Regions from separate parts of the Homo sapiens genome. Here all the other regions are linked to region 3. Evidence: fine-mapped expression QTL. A gene starts in region 3. Each other region holds a variant in brackets. All regions are shown on one strand. Distances are from middle to middle. Region 1 overlaps DHTKD1 (dehydrogenase E1 and transketolase domain containing 1). Region 2 overlaps SEC61A2 (SEC61 translocon subunit alpha 2). Region 3 holds the start of DHTKD1 (dehydrogenase E1 and transketolase domain containing 1).

What was found.
Region 1: its variant is fine-mapped to the expression of DHTKD1 in whole blood (TOPMed, PIP above 0.99). The same link has a PIP of 0.9 or more in blood mononuclear cells and lung.
Region 2: its variant is fine-mapped to the expression of DHTKD1 in whole blood (TOPMed, PIP above 0.99).

Annotation. Positions count from the first base shown.
Region 1 is chr10:12,118,908-12,121,749 of GRCh38, reverse strand. It overlaps DHTKD1 (dehydrogenase E1 and transketolase domain containing 1), which reads right to left. Exons shown (of 17, transcript NM_018706.7): 15 at 2,832-2,842; 16 at 1,483-1,568; 17 at 1-963. The coding sequence ends at 862. Among named protein-coding and RNA genes, the nearest start is that of SEC61A2, 9.3 kb to the left of the region's middle. RefSeq lists an enhancer at 1-111. The variant T/C (reference allele first, on the strand shown) is at 1,198.
Region 2 is chr10:12,137,842-12,140,341 of GRCh38, reverse strand. The region is part of intron 3 of SEC61A2 (SEC61 translocon subunit alpha 2); the gene reads right to left. Among named protein-coding and RNA genes, the nearest start is that of MIR548AK, 8.3 kb to the right of the region's middle. The variant C/T (reference allele first, on the strand shown) is at 1,238.
Region 3 is chr10:12,067,416-12,069,915 of GRCh38, reverse strand. It overlaps DHTKD1 (dehydrogenase E1 and transketolase domain containing 1), which reads right to left and starts at 962. Exons shown (of 17, transcript NM_018706.7): 1 at 729-962. The coding sequence starts at 882. RefSeq lists silencers at 627-786, 887-936.

The DNA of each region.
Region 1 (2,842 bases), 52 kb before region 3:
CTTGCTCTGTCGCCCAGGTTGGAGTACAGTGGCGCCATTTCGGCTCACTGCAACCTCTGCCTTCCAGGTTCAAGCAATTCTCCTGCCTCAGCCTCCGGAGTAGCTGAGACTACAAGCGCATGCCACCACACCCAACTAATTTTCATATTTTTAGTAGAAACGGCGTTTCACCACGTTGACCAGGCTGGTCTTGAACTCCTGACCTCAGGTGATCCAGCCGCCTAAGCCTCCCAAAGTGCTGGGATTACAGGCGTGAGCCACTGCACCCAGCCATCACACTTTCTTTTTTTGTTATTGTTTTTCTTTTGTTGTTTTCCTATTTCTACCATCACACCTTCAAGGATAAATTTGCTGGTTGCATTCACATATTCATAACCAGTTCCCCTGGTTATTCCACCTATTGCAGATTAAATCACGTATATCAATCCCAACATCTTAGAGGAATACAGTCTTTTCATGTTACCCAACAGAGGGGTTGAGAGAGTGGAGGAAGGAGGCCTCTTTTAATGGGTTTTTTTTTTTTTTTTTTTGAAACGCAGTCTTGCTCTGTCACCCAGGCTGGACAGCAATGGTGTGATCCTGGCTCACTGCAACCTCCGCCTCCCAGATTCAAGCGATTCTCTTGCCTCAGCCTCCCAGGAAGCTGGGATCACAGGTGCCCACCACCACACCCGGCTATTTTTTGTATTTTTAGTAGAGGCGGGGTTTCACCGTGTTGGCCAGGCTGGTCTCGAACTCCTGACCTCAGGTGATCCACCAGCCTTGGCCTCCCAAAGTGCTGGGATTACAGGCATGTGCCACCCCACCCGGCCTTAATGGCCATTTTCTTAAAGAGAAATAGTGTTTCTTCAAAAGTCATCATCAAGCGAAGGTCTTGGCGAGGATATCTTCATGCTGGTGCAAGTGAACTGTGCCAATTCCTACAGCGGGTACTGGCAAAGGGGGCCGGCCCACCAGACGGAGCTATAAGTGCAGCAGAGAAGAAATAAAATGACATTTTGACTAGATCAGAGCTCTGCTTAGTTCCAACAAGACAGTGCATGTATTTCTCTTAGCTTGTTTAACCATAAATCACCTCTTTCAAATAATGAGTTACGCAGAAGAGATTAGAGGGACAGGGCTCCGTGCCTCAATGCCTGTAATCCCAGCGCTTTGGGAGGCCGAGGTGGGCGGATCACGAGGTCAGGAGATTGAGAC[T/C]ATCCTGGCTAACATGGTGAAACCCCGTCTCTACTAAAAATACAAAAAAAATTTAGCTGGGTGTGGTGGCGGGCGCCTGTAGTCCCAGCTACTTGGGAGGCTGAGGCAGGAGAATGGCGTGAACCCGGGGGGCGGAGCTTGCAGTGAGCTGAGATTGCGCCACTGCACTCCAGCCTGGGCAACAGAGTGAGACTCTGTCTCAAAAAAAAAAAAGAAAGAAAGAAAGAAAAGAAAAACAACATGCACACAAAACACAAAACACTACCAGAGAAAACGTGTGATTACCTTGCAGGCCAGCTGCTTTTCAAACCTTGGAGAAACAAACGACCACGGACCCATGTTCTGAGGTTCCTCCTGACTCCAAATATGATCTATGAGAGAAGAAATTCTTTCAGCACCTCAAGTAGACACATGCAGACGGTCCCCAATTTACTATGATCCCACCTACGATGGAGTTTTCAACTTTACGATGGTGTGAAAGGGATTCACATTCACTAGAAACTGTACTTCAAGTACCCATACAACAGTTCTGTTTTTCACTGTTGGTACAGTATTCGATAAATTATCTGAGATATTCAACACTTCATTATGAAATGTAATAGATTTTGTGTTAAATGATTGTGCCCAACGATAAGCTAATGTGAGTGTTCTGAGCATGTTTAAGGCAGGCTAGGCTAAGCTGTGTTTTGTAGTTTAGGTGTATTCAATGCATTTTCTTTTTTCTTTTTTAAGTTCTGGGGTACACATGCAGGATGTGCAGGTTTGTTATGCAGGTAAATGTGTGCCACGGAGGTTTGCTCCTCAGATCATCCATCACCTAGGTATTAACCCAGCATCCATTAGCTGTTCTGCCTGATGCTCTCCCTCCTCCCCCATGACCCTCGGACAGGCCCCATATATGTACCAAATTTTCTTTCTTTTTTTTTTTTTTTTTTTTGAGACGGAGTCTCGCTCTGTCGCCCAGGCTGGAGTGCAGTAGCGCAATCTCGGCTCACTGCAAGCTCCGCCTCCCGGGTTCACGCCATTCTCCTGCGTCAGCCTCCCAAGTAGCTGGGACTACAGGCGCCCGCCACCACGCCCGGCTAATTTTTTTGTATTTTCAGTAGAGACGGGGTTTCACTGTGTTAGCCAGGATGGTCTTGATCTCCTGACCTCGTGATCCGCCCACCTCGGCCTCCCAAAGTGCTGGGACTACAGGCGTGAGGCACCGCGCCCCGCCTGTACCAAATTTTCATGTTTTTGTGTCTTTTTTTGACACAGAGTCTTGTGCCCAGGCTGGAGTGCAGTGGCACAATCTCGGCTCACTGCAACCTCCGTCTCCCAGGTTCAAGCAATTCTTCTGCCTCAGGCTCCCAAGGAGCTGGGACTACAGGCGCCCGCCACCACGCCCGGCTAATTTTTTGTACTTTTAGTAGAGACGGGGGTTCACCGTGTTAGCCAGGATGGTCTCAATCTCCTGACCTTGTGATCCACCCACCTCAGCTTCCCAAAGTGCCAGGATTACAGGTGTGAGCCACCGCGCCCGGCCCAAGATTCAATTTTCTAATAACCCCCACCACATCTTTTCATTTAAAAGAGCTGAAATGGGTTTTGGGTATCTGAACATCAAAACCCAAATGAGAACAACCTCTTACCTTTAACATGT
Region 2 (2,500 bases), 70 kb before region 3:
CTATATTTAATATAATAATCAGTTTCAACTTGTTAAGGCACTCTAAGCAGGTGGCCATTAGCCTGTGGTTGTTTCTGTACCCTGAAGTCTCACAAAAGAAAACTGAAAATGACCTTAGAGGATATTTAATTCTGAATGAGTTTCAGCCAATTACAGACAGTCAACCAGCCTATTGGCTACACAGAAACCTCTCACTGGAACATAATCAAATGAGGCAAACGCCTAGCTGTAGCCAATCAAGTAATTTCTTTACTTCTGCAATTCTTTACTTCTGCTACAAAAGCTCACTGCCCACACCCCTGGAGCAGCTCTCGGCCCCTCTACCCATGTTGAGTGCTGTCAGGTTCATGAATTCTTTTTTTTTTTTTTTTTTGAGATGGAGTCTCGCTCTGTCGCCCAGGCTGGAGTGCAGTGGCGGGATCTCGGCTCACTGCAAGCTCCGCCTCCCGGGTTCACGCCATTCTCCTGCCTCAGCCTCCCAAGTAGCTGGGACTACAGGTATTTGCCACCACGCCCAGCCAATTTTGTATTTTTATTTATTTTTATTTATTATTTTTTGAGACGGAGTCTCGCTCTGTCGCCCAGACTGGAGTGCAGTGGCTCGATCTCAGCTCACTGCAAGCTCTGCATCCTGGGTTCATGCCATTCTCCTGCCTCAGCCTCCCGAGCAGCTGGGACTACAGGCGCCCGCCACCACGCCCGCCTAATTTTTTCTATTTTTAGTAGAGATGGGGTTTCACTGTGTTAGCCAGGATGGTCTCGATCTCCTGACCTCGTGATCCGCCTGCGTTGGCCTCCCAAAGTGCTGGGATTATAGGTGTGAGCTACCGCGCCCAGCTCAATTTTGTACTTTTAGTAGAGACGGGGTTTCTCCATGTTGGTCAGGCTGGTCTCAAACTCCCAACCTCAGGTGATTCACCCGCCTCAGCCTCCCAAAGTGCTGGGATTACAGGCGTGAGCCACTGCGCCTGGCAAGATGACTACTATTAAAATAATCAAAAATACTAAAAGTAGACCAGGATGCAGATCAACTGGAACTCCAGAACACGGCTGGTGGAAATACAAAATGGGGCAACCGAGGGCCGGGCGTGGTGGCTCACGCCTGTAATCCCAGCACTTTGGGAGGCTGAGGCAGGCAGATCACCTGAGGTCAGGAGTTCAAGAACAGCCTGTCCAACATGGTAAAACCCCAGCTCTACGAAAAATACAAAAATTGGCTGGGCATGGTAGCACGTGC[C/T]TGAAATCCCAGCTACTCAGGAGGCTGAGATAGGAGAATCGCTTGAACCCGGGAGGCGGAGCTTGCGGTGAGCCGAAATCGTGCCACTGCACTCCAGCCTGGGCAACAGAGCGAGACTACGTCTCAAACAAACAAACAAACAAACAAACAAAATGGGGCAACCACTTGGAAAAGAGCTGACAATTTCTTATAAGTTGAGCATACATTTACTATAAAACCCAACAGCTGTACTTCTAAGGACTCACCCATGAAAAATATCCACAGAAAGACTTATACATGAATGTTCATAGCAAATTGATGTGTTGTAGCCAAAATCTGGATACAACCCAAATGTCTAACAAGCGAATGAATGAATAAACTGTGATAACTTCAACATCAGAACAGTATTCAGAAATAAAAAGGAATGAGTTACTGACGTAACGACCATATGAATTAATCTCAAAAAGATTATGAAGTTAGACACTAAAGAATATACTACTGTATGATTCCATTTACATGAAGCTCTAGAAAAAACAAATCAAAGTACAGTCACAGGATGCAGATGAGTGGTAGCCTGGGCCTGTGGAGATTCACTGAGAAAGGTTACAGTGAACTTCGGGGATGACAGAAGTGTTCTATATCCACAGAGGTTGTAGTCATGTGGGTGTACAAATTTGTCAAAACTCTTCAAAATGTATGCCTAAAAACAGGTGTACTTTACTGTATATATATTATACCTCCACAAGGTTGACTTTTTTTTTAATGGTGGGGAGAGGAGTTTCTAAGATGCTGAAAGTCAATGGTAGAAATATGGATGACTATTCTTTTTTTTCTTTGTATTTTTCTTTGTTTCTTTAAACTTCTCTCCCTGACCATTTAAAACAAATTTAAAACAAGTACAGTAGTAAAAGTACTTTAATTATCAGATCATTTCATCCTTCAGAAAGAAAATATAGTTAGGTTTTCTCCAGATTATGTACCTAATCTGTTCTACTGCTTCCTAATATAATTTTTTAAAAGTTCTTACAAGTATTTCAATAGATTTTCGAACTCCCCAAAAAACCTTGACCTAAATTATCTGGTATGTATGTATGTATGTATCTATGTATTTATTTATTTTGAGACAGCATCTCGCTCTGTTGCCCAGGTTTGAGTGCAATGGCGTGATCTCAGCTCACTGCAACCTCCACCACCTGGGTTCAAGTGGTTCTCCTGCCTCAGCCTCCCGAGTAGCTGGGATTACATGTGCACGCCACCATGCCTGGCTAATTTTTGTATTTTTAG
Region 3 (2,500 bases):
TCCTGGAAATGTATCCTTGGGAGACCTTAAAACTTTACTTCTCCCACAGCTCCGCCTCATTAAAGAGCTGGTTTTCTAGGCTGGGTGCAGTGGCTCAGCCTGTAATCCCAACACATTGGGAGGCCGAGGCTGCAGGATCAGCTTGAGCTCAAGAGTTCAAGACCAGCCTGGGCAACATGGTGGGACCCCATCTCTACTAAAAATGAAAAAAAAAAAAAAAAAAAAAAAAAAGCTGGGCGTGGTCATCCCTCTGTGTCCCCAGCTACTCGGGACGCTGAGGTGGAAGGATAGCCTGAGCCCAGGAGTTCGAGGCTGCAGGGAGCTGTGGTCGCAGCACTGCACTCCAGCCTGGGCCACAGAGCGAGACTCCGTCTCAAAAAAAAAAAAAAAAAAAAAAGGAAACAAAAAGAGAAAGAAAAAAAGAGTTTCTCACACGTTTCCAACAAAGGAAAGAAAAGCCCTTCCGAAACCAGGTCCGGACCAGCAAGATGGGAAGACCACCCAAGCGTGGACCTCAAAGATCCTCAGTTACAGAGGATGGACGGGGGATGACCCCAACACTGAGCACCCACACCTACCCTCTGCTCCCCTCACCTCCCCCTCCTCCCCACCGGCCGCGCGTTCAGGCCGGCAGCCGGTTCCCCGACCCCGACACCCCACCGCAAATCGGCCAGGGGAGGCTTCTGCGTCCCAGCCCCCGCTCCCACCGCCCGGGCCCCATCCCCGACCTGGGGGGCGCTCCAGGGCGCCCTGGGGCTCGCGGCTCTCGGGCTTCCTCGGCCGGTAGCCGTAAACGCCCCGCTCGGTCTGGTAGCCACGCCAGAAGAGAGGGAGAGCCCGGCCGAGGCCCCGTCGTGCTGCTGCCGCAGTAGCAGAGGCCATGTTCACCAGATGTCCCGGCCAGCATGCTAAGGCGGGAGCCCGAGGGGATCCCACCGGCCCTGGTAAATCCGGGACTCGTCAGAGGCGGCCGGAGCCCCGCCCCCAGACAACGCCCCCGCGCCTGATTGGCCGACGGGCCGGACCCTGGAAGCCAATCCGTGGCAGCGGCACTCACAGCGAAGCGACGCCCAGGATTGGGGCGGGCTTCCAGGGCGGTTCCGGCGGCTGAGACCGCCCTGCTCCACCGCAGGGCGGGGCAAGTAAGTGTTCCGCGGGGCGGCACCTGCTCCCAGTACGAAACAGGATGTAGCTGCAGCGCCTGTAGTCTCCCGCCAGGAGTGTTTACCCATCACGCCTCTGCCCAACCGCATAGACACAGTCTAGGGTGTCTGTTACAGAAAGGACAAATTAGCCACAGGGTGGATAGGAAATGGCTAGGACTGAGACCAAGGGACGCAAAAAGCAAAGGTTACTTAGCGCAGCTACAAAATCAATACCCCTAATTTTTTTGTTTTCTTAAGAAACATTAACAGAGGCCGGGCGCGGTGGCTCACGCCTGTAATCCTAACACTTTGGGGGGCCACAGCGGGAGGATCATCTGAGGTCAGGAGTTTGAGACCAACCTGTCCAACATGGCGAAAACCCATCTCTACTAAAAATACAAAAATTAGGTCGGGCGCGGTGGTTCACGCCTGTAATCCCAGCACTTTGGGAGGCCGAGGCGGGCGGATCACCTGAGGTCGGGGGTTCGAGACCAGTCTTACCAACGTGGAGAAACCTCGTCTCTACTAAAAATACAAAATTAGCCAGGCGTAGTGGTGGGTGCCTGTGGTCCCAGCTACTCGGGAGGCTGAGACAGGAAAATCGCTGGAACCCGGGAGGTGGAGGTTGCGGTGAGTTGAGATGGCGCCATTGCACTCCAGCCTGGGCAACAAGAGCGAAACTCCGTCTCAAAAAAAACAGAACAAAAACAAACAAACAAACGAACAAAAAAAAAAAAACAAAACAGGCTGCAGTGGCTCATGCCTGTAATCCCAACACTCTGGGAGGCCCTCTGGGAGGCCAAGGAGGGCGGATCACGAAGTCAGGAGTTCGAGACCATCATGGCTACTATGGTGAAACCCCGTCTCTACTAAAAATACAAAAATTAGCCGAGTGTGGTGGCGGGTGCCTGTAGTCCCAGCTACTCGGGAGGCTGAGGCAGAAGAATCGCTTAAACCCTGGAGGCAGAGGTTGCAGTGAGCCAAGATCGTGCCCACTGCACTCCAGCCTGGGCGACAGAGCGAGACTCTGTCTCACAAACAAACAAAAAACATTAAGAGAGAAAGAAGGAAATAGGGTAAAGGGAGCAGGGAAGAAAGGGATAAGAGTCAAAAGAAACTGGACATGAACGATTAGTTGGTCTGTCTCTGAGTGAGTTTCCCAAATGATTTTTTTTCTGTGGCTTACTTTTAACTTTGCCAGTATGGTAGGAGAGAGAGTCTGCATCCTTACCTGGTTAGTCATCCTTCGTTCCAGTAAGCTGTGCAGCTATACCCCAAACTCCTAGGAATATTATACATACAAGCCCAAGACATCCTCCTTCTTACTCATTCAACCAGTACACTCATAAAGCACT